2 separate regions of the Homo sapiens genome follow, and region 1 is linked to region 2. The links come from fine-mapping of genetic effects on gene expression. A gene starts in region 2. The other region holds a variant in brackets. All regions are shown on one strand. Distances are between the middles of the regions. Region 1 overlaps COL16A1 (collagen type XVI alpha 1 chain). Region 2 holds the start of SNRNP40 (small nuclear ribonucleoprotein U5 subunit 40).

The links. PIP is the estimated chance that this variant, and not a neighbour inherited with it, causes the effect.
Region 1: its variant is fine-mapped to the expression of SNRNP40 in monocytes after interferon gamma (Fairfax 2014, PIP 0.95).

The regions. Positions count from the first base shown.
Region 1 is chr1:31,679,493-31,691,222 of GRCh38, reverse strand. It overlaps COL16A1 (collagen type XVI alpha 1 chain), which reads left to right. Exons shown (of 71, transcript NM_001856.4): 20 at 1-35; 21 at 650-694; 22 at 830-856; 23 at 1,372-1,482; 24 at 2,138-2,173; 25 at 2,252-2,362; 26 at 2,721-2,756; 27 at 4,944-4,979; 28 at 5,088-5,132; 29 at 5,453-5,584; 30 at 6,367-6,402; 31 at 6,593-6,700; 32 at 6,992-7,114; 33 at 7,220-7,273; 9 more. Among named protein-coding and RNA genes, the nearest start is that of COL16A1, 19 kb to the left of the region's middle. RefSeq lists enhancers at 8,913-9,785, 10,061-11,260. The variant TG/G (reference allele first, on the strand shown) is at 3,841.
Region 2 is chr1:31,289,462-31,301,191 of GRCh38, reverse strand. It overlaps SNRNP40 (small nuclear ribonucleoprotein U5 subunit 40), which reads left to right and starts at 4,404. Exons shown (of 10, transcript NM_004814.3): 1 at 4,404-4,581; 2 at 7,844-7,973; 3 at 9,186-9,279. The coding sequence starts at 4,441. ZCCHC17 (zinc finger CCHC-type containing 17) reads right to left here and starts at 4,160. Exons shown (of 8, transcript NM_016505.4): 1 at 4,117-4,160. RefSeq lists an enhancer at 4,426-4,635.

The DNA of each region.
Region 1 (11,730 bases), 390 kb before region 2:
ATCCAGGTGGCCCACCAGGCCCCAAGGGAGACAAGGTGAGCATAGGTGGGAGTGTGGTCACGTGGGGAGCTCCATGCTTGACAGGAGGAGAGAGAAGGGGCCGGGGCAGCTTCCCACAGGGGAAGCAAGTCCCAGGGAGGAGGCCGGGCCTTTGGAGGAGGAGGCTGGGCTCGGCTTGGCCAGGCCCCTTGGCGGGGAGCGTCCTGTCCCCATCCCAGTGCTCACTGAGCTGCTCACTGCAACCTCCGCCTGTGTTCCAGGTATAGGGATGGGCAGACCTAAGTGTTGTAAAGATCAAAGTGGACTTTGCTGGAGGGCCCAAGCTCATTTTAGAGCCTTGTGCCTGGATGTGCAGAAAGCTCTGGAAATTTCTGTCTGTGACTGCTGGGGTCACGCGGATCACCTCTTAACCTGTGCACCAGTGAAGGGGCACACAGAAGCTTCATTTTCTCCCTTCCTTTGAAACCTAGAATGGCTTGGGTTAGACACGGAGGGCAGGCAACAGGAACCGACCGAATGGAACAAATGGCAACAAGAGATTTGGCAACGATTGTTCTGCCATCACAGAGGGGCACGGGTGGGGAAGGGGGAACGCACCGAGATTGCATTGGCCAGAAGGCTCCCCGCTTATCCTTTCTTCTGACCACAGGGCAGCTCGGGGATCCCAGGAAAGGAAGGCCCTGGTGGGAAACCTGTGAGTGACACCAATCCAGCGGGGGAGGGTCGGCTCTTCCAAGGCCTCTGGAGGGAGGGGCTAGGTCCTCCGGCCCTCAGTTGGCACACCAGCCCTCTGCCCTGGCACTGATGCCCATTGCCTCTTTTCTAACAGGGGAAGCCAGGTGTGAAGGGAGAGAAGGTGAGTCCTAGGCCTGGCTGCCCAGATCGGGGTGGGAACGGGACCCCCTTTCTGCACATGACAGTGAGCATCAAGGGCCCTAGGCCTAGGGGTGCTGGACCTTCCTCAGGGGACCCCCACCCGTTCTTCCTCTGATGTCCATGTGCAGTGAGTACATAAAGAACCTGGCTTAGGGGTGAGCTGGGTTCAAACTCTGCCTCCACCACACACATGGTTATGAATGTGCCAGATCAATTAGCTTCTCTCTTAGCCCAAGTTTCCATGTCTGTCAGTGGGGCACAGTCATGTTTTAAGGCTTACGGCGAGGATGTAGTTTTGCGCCACCCTGGAATCTTGTGGTGAATGAATGAGTCAGTTGAACAGGAAGCCCCAGCGGCATTCCTGCTGTCCACTTTGATGTTGGGGGTGGGGCTCTGGTGGACCCAATGTCTAGGGCTGGTCTGCGCAAGAGGCCCCTTGCCTTCCCTGGGGTCTCAGCCCCACCCTGTCCACATACTGCCTCTCCCTTCTGCTAGGGTGACCCCTGTGAAGTGTGCCCAACACTGCCTGAAGGGTTCCAGAACTTTGTTGGACTTCCTGGAAAGCCAGGGCCCAAAGGGGAGCCTGGTGATCCTGTACCAGCCAGGGTGAGTGCCCAGGGTGACCATTGAGGGACCTCCCCCAACACACAAAGAAACCTGGGGACATGATCATAGAGAGGAATTGGGCAGAGGGGCTGGGTACTTCTCGTGGCTACAGAGAGATTATGGGCAGAGAGTCTAGGCTCTTACTGTGGTAAGGGGTCTGAACCATAGAACTCAGGGCTGGGCTAGAGTGCCACCTCCGGTCTCCATGGCAACCTCCCAGGGCTTTCCAGGAGACTCTAGGGTGCCTTTTGGGCAAGCTGGGCTGGAGCCCACCCTTACTGTGAGTGAGGCTGTGTCCTAGGATTGGGTATGTTTTGGGGGTGGAGGAAAGGAGTGAGCAGGACTGGGTTAGCCCCCTCTCTCACAGACCCCCTCTTTCAGGAGCACCTGGGAGCTGTCAGACAAAAAGGTGATTGGGTATATGCAGGAACTTCCCACTGGGTTAGCTTAACCTGGCGTCATTCCCCCCGCCACGCTCCTGCTTGTTATGTGGGTTGATGAACCCTGCCTCTGGGGTGCTGGCCTTGGACCCCATGGGACCCCTAGGTGTTTGGACGGTTTGCGTGTGTGACATTGCTGTCCTCGCATATTGCCAGGGAGTTTGGGGGTGCCCCATCGTGCCCTGCCTCAGCCCACAAACCTTTTTACCCTGCAGGGAGACCCTGGCATCCAAGGCATCAAAGGAGAGAAGGTGAGGGAACCCTGCTCTCCTGGCTGCCCTCCTCTGCCTACCTGGAAGCATTTCTGATCCTTCCTCTTCTTTCCCCAGGGGGAGCCCTGCTTGTCCTGCAGCTCGGTTGTAGGGGCCCAGCATCTTGTGTCCTCCACAGGGGCCAGTGGAGATGTGGGTTCCCCTGGCTTTGGTCTGCCTGGCCTTCCGGTGAGTGACGACTTTCTCCCAGCCCAGCCCAGTTCAGCCATCCTTGCCATACTGTTGATCTCCCTGGCTTTTCAGATCCCAAGTCTCAGGGCAGGGATCAGGAGGGAGGGGAAGAGGCAGGTGTCCCAGGCCTGTCTCCTGGTCCCTCCCTCCGTCCCTGTGCTGCCCCAGGCTCCTTGCCCTGGAACTTCCTCTTAGCACCTCTAGCTTCAGTTGTCTAACTGAAGAAACTGTCCAGCTACCTGAAGGACATAATTCCTATCTTACCGTTCTGTTTCTGGTTGGACACTGGGACCCGGGGAGCCTTGGAGAGGTGGGAGTGGGGAGATGCTGAGACTCTGTCTTGGTTGTTTTTCAGGGTAGAGCTGGGGTTCCAGGGCTGAAAGGAGAGAAGGTGAGACCTGGGTTAGATGTCAGGGACACTGGAGTTTCTTGGCAGGCAGGCAGGGGAGGAGTGGTGCGGGCGGGGAATAAGGGTAATATAAACAAGAGATTCAGACGGTAAATTCACAGTGAAATTAATTTACTAGTGTTTTGCAGACTTGAGTCAAAGAATTTATTTCTGAGAGCCCTCATGTTCTGTAAGAGAATTCCTTAGTGTAGCTGTGATGATATTCTAAAACTATTAAGCACATTCAAGATTACCTTATTATATTTATAATATGTAACACTTCTTTATTGCTTATGATGTGCCGGGCACTATTCCAAATCTTGTAAGTATATTCACTTGTTTTGTCCTCCCAGAGTTTATGGGGTATGTGCTCCATTATTCCCATTTCACAGATGAGGAAACGGAGGCACACAAAGGCCAAGTAAATTGCCAGGTGATTGGATGCAGAGCTGGGATTGAGCCCAGGAAGCCTGGCTCCAGAGACTGTAATCTTCACTACGCCTGTGGGTCACTCAATTTCAGTGCCTGTGTTAACGTATCTATTTATGATTGCATTGGAGACAAATGGCAGGCTTGAACTTCTAATGCAGTGTTACCCAAATGTTACCCAAATTCTGTGGGTGTACGAGTGCTCAAGTGTGAGAAACACTGAAGTATGTGTGCAGACTCAACCCTAACAGGGGAAGCCCACATGTCACATCACATGTGGGGCCTTTGCACCCCCACCCCACCTGCCGCCTCTTCCCAGCTTCCCCATCTCAGTCATCAGCTCACAGCCAGCCCCTCAAAGCCCAGCCTTGCGGTCGTCCTCAGATCCTTCACTCCTGACGCTGCCCCCTCCCTCTAGCCCCCCAGCGAGTCCTGACAGTTCTGCCCATGATGGCTCTCTCACCCCCTCCACTTCTCTCCACGCCCACCACTGCCATAGTAATCTGCGTCCCCATGGCCTCTCTCCTGCATGGTGGAACCTCCTCTGGCCTGCCCGTGGCCACTGTAGCCCTGCAGCAGTCCGGTTTTCACCTGGTAGTTTTTCGTGTGTGTGTGTGTGTGTGTGTCTGTGCGTTGTTGGTTTTTTTTTTTTTTTTTT[TG/G]AGACTGAGTCTCACTCTGTTGCCCAGGCTGGAGTGCAGTGGTGTGATCTCTGCTCACTGCAACCTCCACCTCCCAGGTTCAAGTGATTCTCCTGCCTCAGCCTCCCAATTAGCTGGGATTACAGGCGTGCACCACCACACTCAGCTAATTTTTGTAGTTTTAGTAGAGACGGGGTTTTGCCATGTTGGCCAGGCTGGTCTCAAATTCCTGACCTCAAGCGATCTACCCTCCTTGGCCTCCCAAAATGCTGGGATTACAGGCGTGAGCCATCGTGCCCAGCCTTCACCCGGTAGTTTAATGTGGCTTTGTAGAAGAATCAGTATTTCCCTCCTTAGAGTCCCTCTGTGACTTACTTTCTAACATAGCTCCACTGTATCTCACAGGACCCCGGATGCCCCAGCCCCCATCCTTCCCAAATTCATCCGCTTCTTCCCCTTCTCTTCGGGTTTACTCTGCTTTAGCCGTGCGGATCTTCTTTCCATTATGGAATATGTCCGGACTACTCCCACCCGTCAGATTTTGTACTTGTGGTTCCCACTAGAAGCATCCAGAATGTTTTTCCTCTCTACCCTCCCCCATTCTTTCATTGGATGACCTTATTCTCATTCTTCTGGTAATAATCAGGGTTAACACCTCTCTGACCACCTCCACTTACTCTGTCTCATCACCTTGTTGATTTCCTTCATAGTACTCACCACTGTTTAAAATGATGATTTAGAAAGTTCTGCGTGTGCAAGCTCAACAGGCATTGCTGTTTGTCCTGCTCACTGCTGTCTACCCAGTGCCTCAGCCCAGTGCTCCGCCTGTAAAGGTGTCCAATGAAAGGCTGTTGGAAAAATGCCTTCGTGATTTTTGTGTGCTGAGACATGGCTGAGGGTGGGCTGGATTCCATGAGGTGAAGCTGGGGGCAGAAATAGGGCTTCTAGCCCCTGGCTGGTTACAGACTCCCTTGGGGACCTTGGAGAAAGCCCTCTTCCTCTCTGGACATGAGAGGGTAGTCTGGACATCTGAAGGGGTTGCTTTTACAGTTTTGGGTTTGGGATTGCTCTAGCACCCAGACTCCATCCCCTCTTTAATCATGGTTTCTGTGCTTTCTCTCAGGGTAACTTCGGGGAGGCAGGGCCAGCTGGCAGTCCAGTAAGTATGTTTTGGATGGCAACAGCTTGGGAGAGGACAAGGTGGGAGGGGCTGATAGGCATGGCCCTGGCAGATGCTGGGCATTACCTGTAGCGTCTTAACATGCAGGGGCCACCAGGACCAGTGGGGCCAGCAGGCATCAAAGGGGCGAAGGTGAGTCTGGGGACATTCTCCGTGCTGCAGCCTGGGTGAGCTTCCTAGATAGACACTCGTCTTGCTCGACTTCGAACCCTCTGGGGCTCCTTGCTGTCTGTCGGGCAGAGTCTGACTCCTTAGCAAGGCATGGAGACCCCTGATGACTCAGCTCCACCTTTGTTTCTTTCCTGTTCTCCCTTCATCTTTCCCAAGATAACCCCTCACCCAGCAGAGGTGCAGTGTCAGACCCAGTGACATTCCCCAGCCCTAGATTCCAAACCTCGCTCAAGTGCACTAGGGCCTGGGGGACCCCCTAACTCAATGTCCTTGCTTGGCAGGGGGAGCCCTGTGAGCCGTGCCCAGCCCTGTCCAACCTTCAGGATGGGGATGTCCGTGTGGTGGCCTTGCCTGGCCCATCCGGAGAGAAGGGGGAACCTGGGCCTCCAGGCTTTGGCTTGCCAGGAAAACAGGTGAGGTGGGATATAGGCAGGGGCCTCTGGACGGGGGATGCAGGCGGGGCTAAGGAGAGGGGAGGGGTCCTGCCTGGGTCTCTTGACTCCCTGGGCAGTTGGGGGTAGTGGGGAGGGTGTGGCGGGGTCAGAGCCTCTGTCTCCAGCAGGAGCGGCCCTCACAGGTCTCTGCCCTTTATCCTGGGACAGAGTATGGCAGAGTGGGCAGAAAGCACGCCATCCTAGGAGCAGAGAGACCTGGGTTCCAATCTTAGCTTTGCTTCTTACTAAGTCTTTGACTTGAGCAAGTCACCTTCTCTCCACCTCTGTTTCCTGCACAGAGTAAAGCCTAGTAATGGCGTGTGTGAAGTGCTTAGTGGTACACCATGGGCACTGGGGAAATGGCAGTTACCACTGTGGTTATTATCACTGTTACTGCTTTCACAGTAACGGCCAGCACTACCACAGTGGACACTATGTGCCAGGCACTGCTGCACACGACATATTAGCTTGTCTAACCTCACAGGATCCCTACAGGGCAGAAGCCTATACTATTTTTATCATCCCCATTTGACAGCTGAAGAAACTGAGGTACGGAGATAGATGAGCTAATTTGCTCATGTCACCCAGGCAAAGAGTCTGGCACAAATCTTTGCTCTGCACCTGGGCAAGATTGCTTCACTAGCACGAAAGCAGAGATTTTGTTTGTTTGTTTACTGTTGTATGCCCCAGCCTGATGTGGTGCCGGGCACTTTGGGGTGGCTGGTATGAGTGAGCGGGTGCTGGAAATGCTTTCTCCTCAGGGCAAGGCTGGAGAGCGTGGACTGAAGGGGCAGAAGGTGAGAGGGCGTCCGTGGGCACGGGGGTGGGCATGGCATCATCTCAGATCCCCTCCTTGCCTCATTTTCCTCCCTCCCTAGCCCCCAACCCTCAGCCCCGGCAAAGGAGTGTGAGTGCCTGCGAGTCCCAGGGGGGCAACCTGCCCCCGGCTGGGCCATCCTTGCTTTCCTTGAACCCCACTCCTTACAGGGTGATGCTGGGAATCCTGGAGACCCTGGAACGCCGGGCACCACAGGGCGGCCAGGACTGTCAGGAGAGCCTGGAGTTCAGGGCCCCGCGGGGCCAAAAGGAGAAAAGGTTAGTCAGGCGGGGTGGTTGGGGTCGGGGAGTTTGTTGCATAAAAAAAATCAGGTGTCGCACCAGTGAGGGAAGGACTGCAGGGCCAGCTGGGGCCTTAACGGCTGTCAGAGTCACTGAGCGGAGGCTCCTCGGGGCTTCTCCTCTGCTAGGAGTGTCAGGGGCCTGTTTTGATTTCCCAGGCTGACGTGGGAGCATTCAAGGGGCAGAGTGTTCAGAGGGGTGCAGGGCGTCCTGGCCTGGGTGCCAGCCCCGGCTCATGGGCTCCTGGCTGTACCCATCTCTGACCAGGGTGATGGCTGCACTGCCTGCCCCAGCCTGCAGGGGACAGTGACAGACATGGCAGGACGGCCTGGGCAGCCCGGCCCCAAAGGAGAGCAGGGCCCCGAAGGCGTGGGCCGACCTGGTAAACCCGTGAGTTGCCTGCCCTCCGGCCCTTCCCTGCCTGGGCTTTGCCTCCTCTCCCTCCTGTCCCCCTTTCTCCTGTGGGGACTCCATGGGCCACCTTATGCCTTTTAGGGCCAACCCGGTCTACCAGGAGTTCAAGGGCCCCCAGGACTGAAGGGCGTGCAGGTATGTGTGAGTCTTGGGGCCCTGGGCCGTAGCTACGTGAGGGCAGGGGTGGGATAGGGAGATCCATGGGGGCAGTGGGCCTGGAGTGGGAAATGGAGGCAGGGTGCAGGGCAGGAAGAAGCTGGAGGAGAAGGGGCTGGGGAGAAGGGGAAAGGGTGACTGGGGAACCTCGAGCCAGGGACTGTCCTTCTGCCTCTTCAGGGAGAGCCAGGGCCTCCAGGAAGGGGAGTCCAGGGACCCCAGGTGAGTCTCTAGCCCTGCCTTTGCCTGTCCTCTCAGCACTTCCATTAGCCAGCTACCTACTTCCATCCACTCCCAAACTTCAGGGCTCTGCCTGCCCCCAGAGGCACAGGACTTAGTTCTGGGACCAGGGATCAGGCCGCAGCCCTGGCCTGCTGTTGCTTCTGTCAGGGACTTGCCTTTGACCCCAGCCTCTCTGACCCTCAGGGTCTCCTTGGGGAGCTCTTCTGAATTTGGGCTGGCAGATACCCCACCCAGACCAGGTCTGCCGGTGCGGCAGGGCCAGTGGGGCAGGTTGGCTGTGGCTGCTGTGCCCTAGTCTGCCCTTTCTGACTTGCAGGGGGAGCCTGGAGCCCCGGGTTTGCCTGGCATTCAGGTACGTCTGCCTGAGTCCTGAAGGAGGATAGCAGGGGAGGGGGCCATTCTAGGATATGGGTTAACTAACTGTGCTTCCATCTGCAGGGACTTCCGGGACCTCGGGGACCACCTGGCCCCACTGGAGAGAAGGGTGCCCAGGTGAGCCTCTGCCTCCATGGGTATTGGGCCTGCAGTATTCCAGAGTGTCCCAGAAGCAGGCACAGGGGACATGGGGGCCAAGTGATGCCTATCAGAGGGCTGCCTAAGATCTGTTGAGATGTGTCTTACCTGCTGGGTTGTAGCTGGCTTCCAATTCTGCCCCTGAGACCTTTGTACCTTCTCTTACACAGGGATCTCCAGGGGTGAAAGGAGCCACCGGACCTGTGGGACCTCCTGGGGCCAGTGTCTCTGGGCCTCCGGTAAGTCTTCTCTGTGCTCCATGCTGGTGGTGTTGCTGGAACCAAGGATGTTTCTGCTGGGAAGAGGGCACAGGGCTGACCCTGCCCATCCCAGCAGCACAGGGGATGGGAGGAGAGAGGCCTCAGCCCAGCCTCAGACAAGGAAAACCTCACTCTTTTAGGGGAATGCTTGAATAATACAATAATGATCACCACCATTTTTTGAGCAGTGATCATGCTGAGGCCCTGTGCTAAGCTCTAAACACAGAAATTCATGTCATCCTCACATCAGCCCTGTAAGGGAACTCACTTCATAGATCAGGAAGTTGAAGGCCAGAGGGTGAGGAGGCAGAGCCAGGGACTTCAACCTAGGCCTGTCTGACTCAAACCAAAGCCCATCCCCAGTCATTAGGGACATGTGAACCGGTGCTGCCCAGTACAACTGTCTATGAGGATGGAAACGCTGTGTTCTGCACAACCACAGGTGGCTGTTGAGTGCACCTGAAATGTGGCTAGTGTGACTGAGGAACTCAATTTTAAGTGACATTTAATTTTAATTAATTTAAATTTAAATAGCCCCATGTGGCTATGGACTACTGTATCAGACGGCACAGATCCAGACCAGCAACTACTTCCAGTATAATTGGAAAGACCTTCCCTTTGTACTATTCACCCAGTGGCTCCCACGTTTTAAGAGACATGTCTATTGAACAAATTGCACGGATTAAGTAATCATAAGTGCATTTTCTCATTTTTAATCATCAAAGACCTGTATAGTCGTCAGCTTCTACTCCACATGAACCCGCTAGAATTTTACCAGATAATCTAATTGCAGCCAAAATCAAAGGCATGCTACCTTTCAGCCAGTCTGTTCCATGCCAGGCGGTGGGCAAATGCGTAATTTGTCTTGGGCTTTTGGTAATGTTAAAAATAGCCCAGGTGAACTGTATCCTCTTCTGTCTTTGCGGATCCCTGGAGAAATTCTAGTTCCAGTTTGGGATTCACTGATAGGAGAGTGCACCAACGTCCAAAGCAGGCAGGGACTCGCCCAAGCCCACACAGCCGGTCTCTATTGTCCCTCAGAGCTGGACAGCCAGGGTTCCTGCCTGTCCCAGGGAGCCCCAGGCAAAAGGAGAGATGTGGGCCAGGTCCTCAGGGGCTTCAAGTCCCACGTGTGAAGGTGGCGGAGCCCACATGAAGGAGCTATGAGCACAGAGCTACGAGCCTCTGCGTGGCCAGGCTGGCTTCTCCTGGCCTGAGCAGACTCCATGCCGTTGCCCAAACTGCTTTCCTTTTCAGGAGAACGTTCCAGACCTCTACTCATGCTGAATTCCATCCAGCAGGCTTCCCTTCCTCAGCCCCACACTCGCTAGGGGCGTGACCCTAGGCAAGTGACAGCTTCTCAAAGTCTCCAATTTCTTGGAGGGGCTGAAATCCCTTTCTCCCAGTTAGGTCAACAGATGTAACTTTTGTGATAGGGAGAAAGTGTATCAAGCACTAAAGGGAGAGAGGAGAGAGCAGAGACTTCAGGCTACACACGCCTGGCTGCAGCTGGCTGTTGGGTCTGTCATGAAGTTTCTTCAGGGCTCAGTTTCCACACCTGAAAACCAGAACAATACCGTCCTGCCGGGCTGGGAGAGCGGATTCCATTCAGTGTTCCCCGACGGGTACTTGGCCCAGTGGCTGGCACTGAGACGTGCTCAGGAAATGCCAGTCTTCTTCCTTGTCCGGCACCTCAGTCTCCTCCTCTGGAACGTGGGCCCTCGGCCCTGGGCTCCAGGGGAACCTGGCGCTGCTTCTGTTTGTCCTACACCCCTTTTCTGCAGCAGGCCAGATGGCTGGCCGCTGCCCAGTCTCACCCTCTGACTCTGGGCTCTCTCTCTTCAGGGCCGTGATGGGCAGCAAGGACAGACGGGACTCAGAGGAACACCAGTGAGTACAGTGCCTTGGGGCAGCAGGAAGCCATGGCCGGCCCTGCCTCGGCACCCCTATCTGCTCACCTTCCTGTGTTTCTTCCCTGCAGGGTGAAAAAGGACCACGAGGAGAGAAGGTGAGTTCCAAGGGCCTGTGACCCATATTCTAGGGGATTAGCAGCCCCTCCAGCCTTCCCACCTGTGACCCGTACTCTGGGGGATTAGCAGCCCCTCCAGCCTTCCCACCATGAACCAGGGGAGCCTGTGCACATGAAGCTGCCTTGGACTGGAGGATGGGGGTGGAGGAGGCATCCTGGGCTCCTTGCTACCCCCAGCTTTCTGGTTTCAGGGGCTCCACGTATCCCCAGCTTCACCTGGTTGCTGGCCTGGGACTCAACCAGGATTATGGGAGACTGGAAAACTCCAAGGCCCCCTTAGGAGGGCAGCTGCATTTTCAAATGGGGGCTGAGTCAGAGGATGGGGCAGGAAGTGAGCTGGAAAGGACTAGTGGTGAGAGGGCAGAGAGGTGAGGGGCTCCCGAGCGAAGGGCATGGAAGCCAGGCTGGGCCCAGAGGAGTGGGGCTGCAGTTGTACTGAAAGCGAGATTACCTGCGTGGCAGCAGAGAAGGTTATAACTGACGACTGTAACAGCAGGACCATCGTTTGCTGAATAATCACCATGCGACAGGACCCCTGCATACACGAATCCATTTTGTCCTCCTGAGACTCCATGCGCTTGGAATTATTGTTCCCATTTTACAGGCGAGGAGGCTGAGGTGCAGAGAGTTTGAACAGGTTGCCTAAGGGCACATTAGAAGAGGCAGATCCTGGATTGAAACCCTGGCCTCTCCATCTCTAGAGCCCACGTGCCTCTCGGATGTCCATTTCAAGAGAGCCCTTCGTCTTCATCCATGTCTCACAAAGGCTCTTGTATTTTCAGGGTGAGCCAGGGGAGTGCTCCTGCCCCTCTCAAGGAGACCTCATCTTCTCTGGCATGCCGGTAAGTGGCGCTGTGAGAGCCTTCCCCCAACTGGGGGAGAGGACCAGCTTCAGCCTCGTCTGGTGCCCAGTGTGCAAAGGCCCCGCAGGGCCACGCACCCCAGCCAGCCGCCTCCCCACGCAGCCCCGCGCTTGGTGTAGACGTTGCCTATAACCTCTCCCCTTCTTTTGCGACCCCCACTCCCACCCAGGGTGCTCCGGGACTTTGGATGGGCAGCTCCTGGCAGCCGGGCCCGCAGGTGTGTCGCTTGTCTCCTCTTGTCCGCCAGCGCCCCGCGGCTTGTCCACCCTAAACAGCTGCTCTCGGCCATGGGGCAGAGCTCTCTGCTGGCTCTGACTCTTTTCTCTCTCCCTCAGGGTCCACCAGGTATTCCCGGACCACCAGGCCCCCCTGGAGTACCTGGGCTGCAGGTAAAGGGGGAGAAGAGAATGAGGAGCTTGGGTGGCAGAGCTCATGGGTCAGGATGGCTGCTCCCGGCTGGACCCCAAGGATGCTGCTCCCCCACCCCAAAAACACAGACATGCCATTTCTCACTCCTCTGTTTACCTG
Region 2 (11,730 bases):
TAGTGAAGTATTTAATTTTACCCCATTTAAATTGTTAATTCATCAATTCAGTATGCTATTGATTGATGTTTATATATAAGGTACTTTATAAACCTGCTTTCAATCCCTAAAACTCCTCTACAAAGCAAGTAATCCTATTTTACAGGAATGAAATAACTTGTCCAAAACAACACAGCAAGAAAGAGACAAATCTTAGGCCATTCCAAGGGCCACACACACTTGCCACTAAACCACCCTTTTTTTTCTTTTTTTTTTTTTGAGACAGAGTTTTGTTCTTGTCACCCAGGCTAGAGTGCAATGGCGCGATCTTAGCTCACTGCAACCTCCTCCCAGGTTCAAGCGATTCTCCTGCCTCAGCCTCCCGAGTAGCTGGGATTACAGGCACACACCACCATGCCCAGCTGATTTTTATATTTTTAGTAGAGACAGGGTTTCACCATATTGGTCAGGATGGTCTCGAACTCCTGACCTCAGGTGATCCACCTGCCTCGGCCTCCCAAAGTGCTGGGATTATAGGAGTGAGCCACAGCACCCGGCCTAAACCACCCTTTTCAACACAGTCCCTGTTCTCAAAGACCTCCTAATCTGATAGGGATATCAGATATCATCATTCCAACAACACTCTAAACTCCCTTTAACTCTGTCTTTATATTTAACTATCTGGCAGTATGTCTAACCTAGCCCGGGACAGTTGCAGACAACAGAACCCACTTAAGCAGAAAGGGATGTATTGCAATAACAGACTTTGGCGGAACTTCCAGGAACAACACCTAACCCACAAAATAACACCAATTACACTGCAATGTGATAAGTGCTAAAGCAGAAGCTTGGGGGCCAGGCATGGTGGCTTATGCCTATAATCGTAGCACTTTGGGAGACCAAGGCAGCAAGATCACTTGAGGCCAGGAGTTTGAGACCAGCCTGGACAACATGGCAAGACCTTATCTCTATAAAAAATACAACAATTAGCCAGGCATGGTGGCACATACCTGTTATCCCACCTACTGGAGAGGCTGAGGTGGGAGGATCACTGGAGCCTGGGAGGTCGAGGCTACAGTGAGCCATAATCATGCCACTGCAATCGGCCTGGGCAACAGAGTAAGACTGTCTCAAAACAAACAAACAAAAGTAGTAGCTAGGAAGAGAAAGAGGGTCTGGGGGAAGTAGAGAAGTTAAACAGATAACTGAATAAGCCTTTTAGGATAAACAGAAATCCTCTAGCAGAGAATACTGTTCTTTGACCTCATTAGAACCCTGATTTATTGGCCTCTATTTTCTTCCAATCTATCAGCCCTCCCCTTTTTCTTCAGTTTTCTTCCAATCCAGCTTAGATTCCATAGCCCATCATTCCAACAACACCCTAAACTCCCTTTAACTCTGTCTTTATATTTAACTCTCTGGCAGTACCTCTAACCTGGTCAGGGACAGTTGCAGACAACAGAACCCACTTAAGCAGTAAGGGATGTATTGCAATAAAAGACTTTGGCAGAACTTCCAGGAACAACACCTAACCCACAAAATAATACCACCTTTGCCACAATCCAGGAAAGTTATGGCTATCACTGCAGCAAGCCACCAAACCAGGGAGCTATTGACTGGAGAAATTTACTGCCATGACTGGCAGCAAAACTGGATGACTCACACCCTCCTTCTTTCCACATTTAACTCAGTTCCAAATTCAATTTTCACCTTAGGTGCAAGGGAGTCAAGAAAATGGTTTTTAGTTTTCCAGATTTTTCAGGAAGAGAAGACATATTAGAGGTTAGAATGTGTCTTGAGCAAGCGATGTCCTTGCCATACCCAGAAAGGTTTTCTCCATGCATGCACTAAACCGCTGGATATGCTGGAAAAAAATTTTTTTTTTCCTTGCATCCTACATTTCTCTAGTAACCTCATTCTCCCACACTCCACAGTGACTTTCAAATCTTCTACAATATTCTCAAATTTCTCAAAACTGGATCCTCAACTGGATCCTGGATAATCCCTTATCCCCATCGGTTAGCACATCCTCTCCTCCTCTTTACAATCAGATCTATGAAAAATACTGTGTAGGTTCACTACCTACATTTTCTTGTCCAAATCCTTGCCTCATATCTGGCTTTTGGCCCAATCACACCAACAAAATAACTCTTGCTAAGGTTACTGTGACCTCCATGATGATAAAAGCCAAAATATGTTTTTCAATCTTCATGTTATTTAAATTCTAGAAATTTCTATCACAAATCATTCTTTTGCTTCTGAGACATTCTTCCAGTCCTCCTTCCTTTCTTCTGTATCTCCTGTAGGTTCACCTGTTCTTCACCATTAAATGTTGGAACTAGTCAAGGTTCTGACTTAGCTGACCTTACCCACACCTATGGCTCAATTCATGTATATACAAATTATGCCCAATTTTATATTCCCAACACAAATCTCTCTTCTGAGCACAAAGCTGTATTTCAAACTGCCTCTTGGATGTCATGAATGACCCCACACAATCAATCAATCAATCAATAAAAACTGATCTCAGCTGGGAGCAGTGGCTCAGGCCTGTAATCCCAGAATTTTGGGAGGCTGAGGCAGGTGGATCACTTGAGGCCAGGAGTTGGAGACCAGCCTGGCCAATATGGTGGAACCCCATCTCCACCAAAAATACAAAAATTGGCCGGGCACAGTGGAGGCGCCTGTAATCCCAGCTACTGGGGAGGCTAAGGCAGGAGAATTGCTTGAACCTGGGAGGTGGAGGTTGCAGTGAGCCAAGGTTGCACCACCACACTCCAGCCTGGGCGACAGAGCAAGAACCTGTCTCAAAAAAAAAAAAAAAACAAAAAAAAACTGGTCTCTAATCATCTTCTAGTGTTCCCTATCCAGCTTGAGGGATTCCGTGATAGTGAGTGAATGGTACCACCATCTATTCAACTACATAAGCCAGAAACCTAGGAGTTACCTTTGATTCCTCTCTTCACTCCCTAAAATCAACCCATCACCAAGTCCCACCCATTTTACCTCCTATATACCTCTAGAATCTGTCCAATTCTCTGCAGTTCCACCCATATCTCAGTCCTCACTGACATCTCTGACCAGGATTACTGCATATCCCAAGTGGTCCACATACATCGACTAGGGCTTCCCCAACCCCCGTCTGTTCACACCACTGAGCCTGAGGGATCAAGTCCCCTCCTCCACCACACCCCACTGGGGGAAGACGGCTCAGTGGTATCTCATCCGTTTTAAAATAAAAGCTACAAATTCCTGCAAGGTCTGACCGCTATCACGTACAGCTTCATCTTGTACCATACTCCCTTCATTCTCTTTGTACCAGCCACACTGGCTCTTTGTGCTTTTAGTCATTTTCCTCCCAAGTGCCTCAGGGCTCTGAACAAGTAGTTCTCTATGGAAGGTTCTGCCTTCACTTCTTCACCTAATTAATTACAACACTTCCTGCAGCTACCAGCGCAGGCATCTTTTCCTCTGAAAAACCTTCCTGCTTATTTCAGGCACTCATAGCATCAGGCAGCAGTAGGAGGCATTTCCATGTATTAGTGAGGTCATTGTTTAACGTTTTCCCCACCAGAGTTAAACGCCCTGAGAGTAGGGACCGTGCCCGGTTCACAACATACCCCCAACGCGCTGCTAAATGAATATCAGCAGGACGACTGAGGCAATGACCACGTTCATGGGCATGAGTCTCAAATTTCTCAACAAGACTGTGCTCTGGAGAAGGAGTCGGACATTTCCTTCATCACTGTCTCTCTCAGGGGGGCATACAGTAGGCCCTGATCAAAAACTGCAAAATCAGTGGCAGAAACAAGTCAGCCTCCTCGGCCAAATGGGGCACCGGAGGAGGCTGGGACGCAGGCCTTTCTCCCTGGGAATGCCCGGCACAGGACTGGCCACGATGGGCGCTCTTGAAGAAGGGAGCCGCAGGGGCTGGGTCTTGCCGCCAGAGACCCCAAGGCTCCGCTCCTGCCCCGAAAGGGAGCCCAGGCTACTACTTACCACAGCTGGGGACTCGGGGCCCGCCTCCCACCCCTTGCTGTCAGCACCCTCAGCTGAGAAGGGCAGGTTCAGACTGCACAACCGAGGCGTCGCCTCCAGACTCAGGCAGCCACCCACCCCGTTCTTCCTCATACGTACTAGGCGTCAGCTCCAGGTCCCCGAGTCGCTGCGCTGAACTAAACGCCGACCCCAGTCAGCCAGCGCGTTTCCACCCACAAGACCCAGCGCGCCTAGGGCGGTCGCCAGCTCCGTCCACCAATCCTGGTATCGCACTCTCATGACGTCAGAAAGATATGCCCAATAACAAGAGACTATCCGAGGGCGGTGCAAATGGAAATATTGAAAGCCGATTGGTTCTTCCAAGCTGGAAGTTGTGGAGGAAGGACTAATTTGGAACCAATTGCGTGGCGCCTGAGAGCGGCAGCGCGGTCAGTGGCGGCGCTGAAGAGACCGGTTGCCGCCATGATAGAACAGCAGAAGCGTAAGGGCCCAGAGTTGCCGCTGGTTCCAGTCAAGCGGCAGCGGCATGAGTTGCTGTTGGGAGCGGGGTCTGGCCCAGGAGCCGGGCAGCAGCAGGCGACGCCGGGAGCCTTGCTGCAAGCGGTAAGTGAAGAAGCAGGCGGCCTTTGGCCCTCAGCTCATCTTCCTCCCCTCAGAGCGCTGTATCTGGTGATCCCTGACCCTTTCCCGCATTGCGGGGGCAGAACGAGAGTTTCTACGCAGAGTTAAAGCACATAAACACTGTAAAAGCTCCCCATAGCCTGCGAATGCTGCGTACGTGTTCCCCCGTTTGGCGCCCGTTTTCAGCCTCTCGACTGCCCTGAGATAGCATTAGAATTAGAGTTGAGGACCTTGGGCTCAAAACCCTGACCCGGGTTTAAGCATCCTGACTCTAACATGGATCTGGCATAGAACAAAAATTCCGAAGAGTGTGTAGAATGAATGAATGAGGGAGGGAAGAAAAAAGGGAAATGATTTGTGTTGGCTCGTTTTGGGACTTTGGGCAAGTTGCTTTTCCCTTTATTTCTCTGCACTAGTATTATTAACAACTAAATAGCAGCTAACATTCATTGACTCTTGTACTAAAGTGTTTCGTATATGAAATTTCCATTGATCTTGGTAGCAGCCTGTTAGGAACGTTATTAACCCATTTTGCAGATGGAAAAACAGACTTACCAAGTACGTGATAGAAGCAGATTTCGAACTGAGAAACCATGCTCCTAACTACATTTTTTGTAAGATAGAAATAGTGATCACACTTCTAATGTCCTGTTTAGGCTCAGACGAGGAAATACGAGTGTCCTCACATCTCCTCAATAAATCCTGCTGGCACCGTCCTCAAAATAGGTCTAGAATTGCTACTTCTACCATCTCCATCATTGCCTCATGGCCTAAGCCATTATTATCTCATCTGGCATTTTTGTAGTGGGACCCTAACTGGTCTTCCACTTTCTACCTTTGTATCAGCACCTGTTACCAAGCCAATAACCAAAGGAATCCTTCTAAACATCAGATCACATTACACTCTGCAGAAAACTTTCTGGTGGCTTTGTACTTCATCCAGAGTAAAAACCAAAATTCTTGTAATTATTTGCCCTCTTTCCCTTTACCTCTCTGACCAATTTCTTATTGCTCACCTGGCTTCAGTTACTCTCTCTTCCAAGCCTCTGCTTCAGGACCTTTGCATTTGCTGTCCTCTCTGTGGGATTGCTCTTCACAAATGTTTACATGGTTTACTATTCAGCTCCTGCGAATATTTGCCCAAATGTAATTTTTTCAGTGAGGATTTTCCTGACCACCCTATTTTAAATTGCAGTACCACATACTGTGGAACCCACATTGCTTCTCTCTCTCTCTTTTTTTGTTTTTTTGTTTTTAGACAATCTCTCTGTGTTGACCACTGGCTCAGTACAGCCTCCACCACCTGGGCTCAAGTGATCCTCCTGCCTCAGCCTCCTGAGTAGCTGGGACCACAGACACACACCACCACATCTAACTAATTGTATTTTTTTGTAGAGACAGGATTTCACTCCTGAGCTCAAGCAATCCGCACACCTTGGCCTCCCAAAATGCTGAGATTACAGGCATGAGCCACCATCCCCATCCCTTCTTTTGCTCTATAGCACATGACACCACATATATAGTTTGCTTGTTTTCTCTCACCTTCCCTTCTCCCTTCCCCCTTTCCCACTGGAACAGCGAGCTCCATTGTTTATTTTGTTCATTGCTGTTTGCCCAGTGCCTAGCACGTAACTTCTTTTTTTTTTTTTTAAGATGGAATTTTGCTCTTGTCACCCAGGCTGGAGTGGAGTGGCGCAATCTCGGTGCACCGCAACCTCCGCCACCCGGGTTCAAGCGATTCTCCTGCCTCAGCCTCCTGAGTGGCTGGAATTACAGGCGCCCGCCACCATGCCTGGCTAATTTTTGTATATTTTTAGTAGAGACGGAGTTTCACCATGTTGGTCAGGCTGGTCTCAAACTTTTGACCTCAAGTGATCCGCCCACCTCAGCCTCCCAAAGTGCTGGGATTACAGGTGTGAGCCACCGCGCCCAGCCTGCACATAACATTTTTTAAAACTAAATGAATCTGGCCGGGCTTGGTGGTGGGTGCCTGTAATCCCAGCCACTCGGGAGGCTGATGCAGGAGAATCGCTTGAACCCAGGAGGCGGAGTTTGCGATGAGACGAGATCACGCCATTGTACTCCAGCCTGGGCAACAGAGCAAGACTCCTTCCCCAAAAAATAAATAAATAAATAAATAAATATGAAAATGCTGGGAAGTACTGAAGAGATTTGGGGATTATGGGTAGTATACTTCTCCCATTTGACAAGTGAGCATATCAGCCCATGTTTAGATGAATTGCCCAAGTGTCATCTTGGTGTCCAAGACCATAATCAAAACTACTTCACCCATGCTGAGGATCCGTTTGCTATGAAAAAATAAGAAATAAAAATAGGCCAGGTGCAGTGGCTCATGCCTATAATCCCAGCACTCTGGGAGGCCAAGGCAGGCAGATCACATGAGGCCAGGAGTTTGAGACCAGCCTGGCCAACATGGTGAAACCCCATCTCTACTAAAAATACAAAAATTAGCCGGGCGTGGTTGTGCATGCCTGTAATCTTGGCTGCTCGGGAGGCTGAGGCACCAGATCCCTTGAACCCAGAAAGCATAGGTTGCAGTGAGCCGAGATCACACCACTGCACTCCAGCCTGGGTGACAGAGCAAAACTCTGTCTCAAAACACACAAAAAAAATTAAAAATAAAACAAAACTATTTCACCCAGTACTCCATACCAAGCAGAGTTGTTGGGAAAGTCAGTTCCATCATTTGTTAAATGAGCCAGGCCAAATGTGGTGGCTCATTCCTATAATCTTAGTGCTTTGGGAGGCCAAGGAGGGAGGCCAGGATTTTGAGACCAGCCTAGGCAACGTAGCAAGACCTCATCTCCACAAAAACTAAAAAAATTAGCATGGCATGCTAGTTCATGCCTGTAGTCCTGGCTACTCAGGAGGCTGAGGCAGGAGGATCACTTGAGCCAAGGAGTTTGAAGCTGCAGTGAACCATGATCACACTACTGCAGTCCAGCCTAGGTGACAGAGTGAGACCCTATCTCCAAAAAAAAGTTGGTCGTACAACAAGAGCTGAGAGAGTGAACAAGAGAGTCATTATAACAGGTAGATAATGGAAAGTTTCAGAGAGTGTCAAGTTGGAGGCATTCATATGAGAAGAGCTACCATTCTGTAAGTCAGATGAAACCCACTTAATCATTGTTTTCTTGGTCTTTTCCCTCCACTCCCCACCCCCTAATTTTGTAGCCTCCTTTGTCTGTATGCAGTAGTTACCTTGTGCTTCTCTTTTGTTTAGGGACCTCCAAGATGTTCCTCCCTTCAAGCCCCAATCATGCTGCTCTCTGGACATGAAGGGGAAGTCTACTGCTGCAAGTTCCACCCCAACGGATCCACCTTAGCATCTGCAGGATTTGACCGACTGATATGTGAGGCATAGTTTTTGAATCTGGAATAATTTTTCCTGCCAGATAGTGATTTTTTTTTTTAAATCTTGGGTGCCACAGAAGGTATCACTCTATGTTGGCAACATAACAGGCTGCATGGCTAATATGCTAAAATTGGGGCATGAACATGCTGAATGATCTTGGGTGTAGAACTTGGAGTCCATGGGGTAAATACAGAAGCCATTATTTTACTAGTTGGAAAGTGAGTTGTTCTGGTTTGAGAATGTCTTCCTCATAGAGGCAAATCTCCAGCTAATTTACCAAGGCACTTAGCAATCTAGACATAACAGGTTAATGGCAGTAATGAGGAGAGAAATAACTTTTATTTTCCCAAAGGTATAAGGTCCTCTTAATTCACACCCAGAATCCTAGCTAGCATATGGGAAGGAAGGAATCCTAAAGTGGTAACTCCCTTAAATAATCTACCTGTACATCATTAGGATCTACTACCAGATTTCCATTTTTGAGAAATAAGAATTTCTCATACCCATTTTTGAGAAGTAAGTAGAAAAAGTCGTTTTATTTATACTCCAGCAAATGAAGCCAGAAGGAAAAAAAATCAGATGCTTCTGTTGCTACTTTCTTGCCAGATTATGAGATGAAATGAGTTATTTGGCTCTTTTCTGTTAACTCTTTTCCTCGGTGCCGGGTGGATGATACCCGTCTTCACTGCCCATTTTGATTTGGATGTTCCGGCTCTATGATCCTTAAGCTTACTAGTGGCCAAACGTCTGGATTGCTTAGGGATCTTTGCAGAACATATATGAATTATTGATAGGCTTAATTTCATCAGACAAACTACATAGTTTTTTTTGTTTGGTTGGTCGGTTGGCTTTTTAGAGACGGAGTCTCACTCTGTCACCCAGGTTGGAGTGCCGTGGCGCGATCTCGGCTCACTGCATCCTCCGTCTCCTGGGTTCAAGTGATTCTCCTGCCTCAGTCTCCCAAGAGCTGGGATTGTAGGCGTCTGCCACTACACCTGGCTGATTTTTTTATTTTTATTAAAGATGGGGTTTCGCCGTATCAGCCACGCTGGTCTCGAACTCCTGACCTCAAGTGATCCACCCGTCTCGGCCTCCCAAAGTGCTGGGATTACAGGTGTGAGCCACCGTGCCTGACCTGAGAACTGTTGTTCTGATAAATTTATAAGTACCCTTTGCCTAGTAATGCTCACAGAACCCATCTCCCTAACAGTACTGTGGAATGTCTATGGTGACTGTGATAACTATGCCACACTGAAGGGACACAGTGGAGCAGTGATGGAATTGCATTACAACACAGATGGCAGGTGAGTATTCTGCATAATGGAAGGACAGCTTCTCATACTAATTCTTGGCGTCCTTTCACCTTTCATCCTTTCTCAGGAGACCCTGCTATCAAAAACTACTAATTTTGGGTAGCTACTTTAGTATCCGATTTATCACTGTCACCCCAAGTGAGGTGTTTATAGTCTGTGTATGCAAATATAAAGATGTTACATCGGTCATTTCAACAACCCAGACAAATTTTTCTTTTTTTAAGACATAAAATAAATGTGATTTTTATATGTAGGCTGGAGTGCAGTGACACAAACATGGCTCACTGCAGCCTCAACCTCTTGCTCGAGGGATCCTCCCACTTCAGCCTCCCAAATAGCTGGGGCCACAAGCCCACGCCTCCATGCCCAGCTAATTTTTAAAAATCATTTGTGGAGACATGGTCTTGCTATATTGCTCCTGAGCTCAAGCAGTCCACCTGCCTCAGCCTCCCAAAAATGCTGTGATTACAATAATTAACCACCATGCCTGGCCTGAAATCAGCTATTTCTATTATAAAAATCATTTCTTTTGAGAAACCAAAAAAAGCAGAAAGATGAAAAAATAGTCTATATTTCTACCACTCCAAAGATAATCAGTGTTAATTTTTTTTTTTTGAGACGGAATTTCACTCTTGTTGCCCAGGCTGGAGTGCAATGGCACGATCTCGGCTCACTGCAACCTCCGCCTCCCAGGTTCACGTGTTTCTCTTGCCTCAGCCTCCAGAATAGCTGGGATTACAGGGATGCATCACCGTGCCTGGCTAATTTTGTATTTTTTGTAGAGACTGGGTTTCTCCATGTTGGTCAGGCTGGTCTTGAACTCCCAACCGCAGGTGATCCGCCCACCTCAGCCTCCCAAAGTGCTGGGATTACAGGCATGAGCCACCGTGCCTGGCCAATCACTGTTAATTTTATACATTTTTCTAATGCCTTTTTTTCTACTCAGAACTGTTTAGTTGTTGCATATTTGTTAGAACTATGTGTACAATCTTTTTTATTTATTTATTTATTTTATTTTATTTTTTTGAGACGGAGTCTTGCTCTGTCGCCCAGTCTGGAGTGCAGTGGTGCGATCTCGGCTCACTGCAAGCTCCGTCTCCGGGGTTCACACCATTCTCCTGCCTCAGCCTCCTGAGTAGCTGGGATTACAGGTGCCCGCCACCATGCCCGGCTAATTTTTTTGTATTTTTAATAGAGATGGGGTTTCACCGTGTTAGCCAGGATGGTCTCGATCTCCTGACCTTGTGATCCGCCCGCCTTGGCCTCCCAAAATGCTGGGATTACAAGTGTGAGCCACCGCACCTGGCCAGAACTGTGTGTACAATCTTATTTGCTCCTTTTTTCTCTTAACATTGCTCAGCCAACATCTGATGTCATAAACGTCATTTTAATGACTATATTATTTTAGAATATATTATAGATAATATAGAAATCTGGCTATACAAAAGTAATTACATTGTTAGGTAGTCTGGTAAACATTCATTGTTTTACATTTCTGACCTCTAAAATCTTAGGGTGCTCCATCAATTGATACATAGCATTGTATACATTTTAAATAAAGCATTAGAAAGCTGGGCCTGGTGGCATGTGCTTATAATCCCAGCTATTTGGGAGGCTGAGGCAGGAGGATTCCTGGAGCCCAAGAGTTCAAAACCAGCCTGGGCAACACAGTGAGACTCCATCTCAAAAAAAATGAAAAAAGAAAGCATTATAAGATCAGTTATAACTTAGAAATCATCCTCAGAGGCTGGGCGTGGTTGCTTACGCCTATAACCCTAGCACTGTAGGAGGCTGAGGCAGGAAGATTGCTTGAGCCCAGTTCAAGACCAGCCTGGGCAACATAGTGAGACCTTGCCTCTACAAATGATTTTTAAAAATTAACTGAGCATGGTGGCACAGACCTGTGGTCCCAGCTACTCAGGAGGCTGAGGTGGGAGGATCACTTGAGCCCAGGAGGTCGAGGCTGCAGTGAGCCATGATTCCAACCCGGGTGACAGAGCAAGATCTCATCTCAAAAAAAAAATGAAAGAAAGAAATTGTCCTCAGAGACAAAAGAAAAACTTTGGTAAAGAGAAAAGATTGGAGTCACTCAGCTGTCAGGTCGGTACCACAGTCTGTCTGATCTCTGCAGCACCAGGGAGTTATTAAACATTTCCAAGTGAGAGGGTGTCTTATGTTTAAAATGTTAGCTATCACAAAAGAGGAAAAGATAGAGCAAACTGCTACATTAGATGTATGTCATGGGGACTCAAAGAAGGGGAATTTTTTAAACTTCACAGGGGTAGATCTTTTATCTGGGCCATCTGGGCCTAGAGGACAAATAGGATTTTGGTAGGGTGAGGCATTCCAGCATCATGGGCAAACTGGCGTAGCACAGCAGGTCAGTGATCTTGAAAAATTTGGCACCTTTTGTCAAGTAGGAAAGATAGATTGTTACTGTTT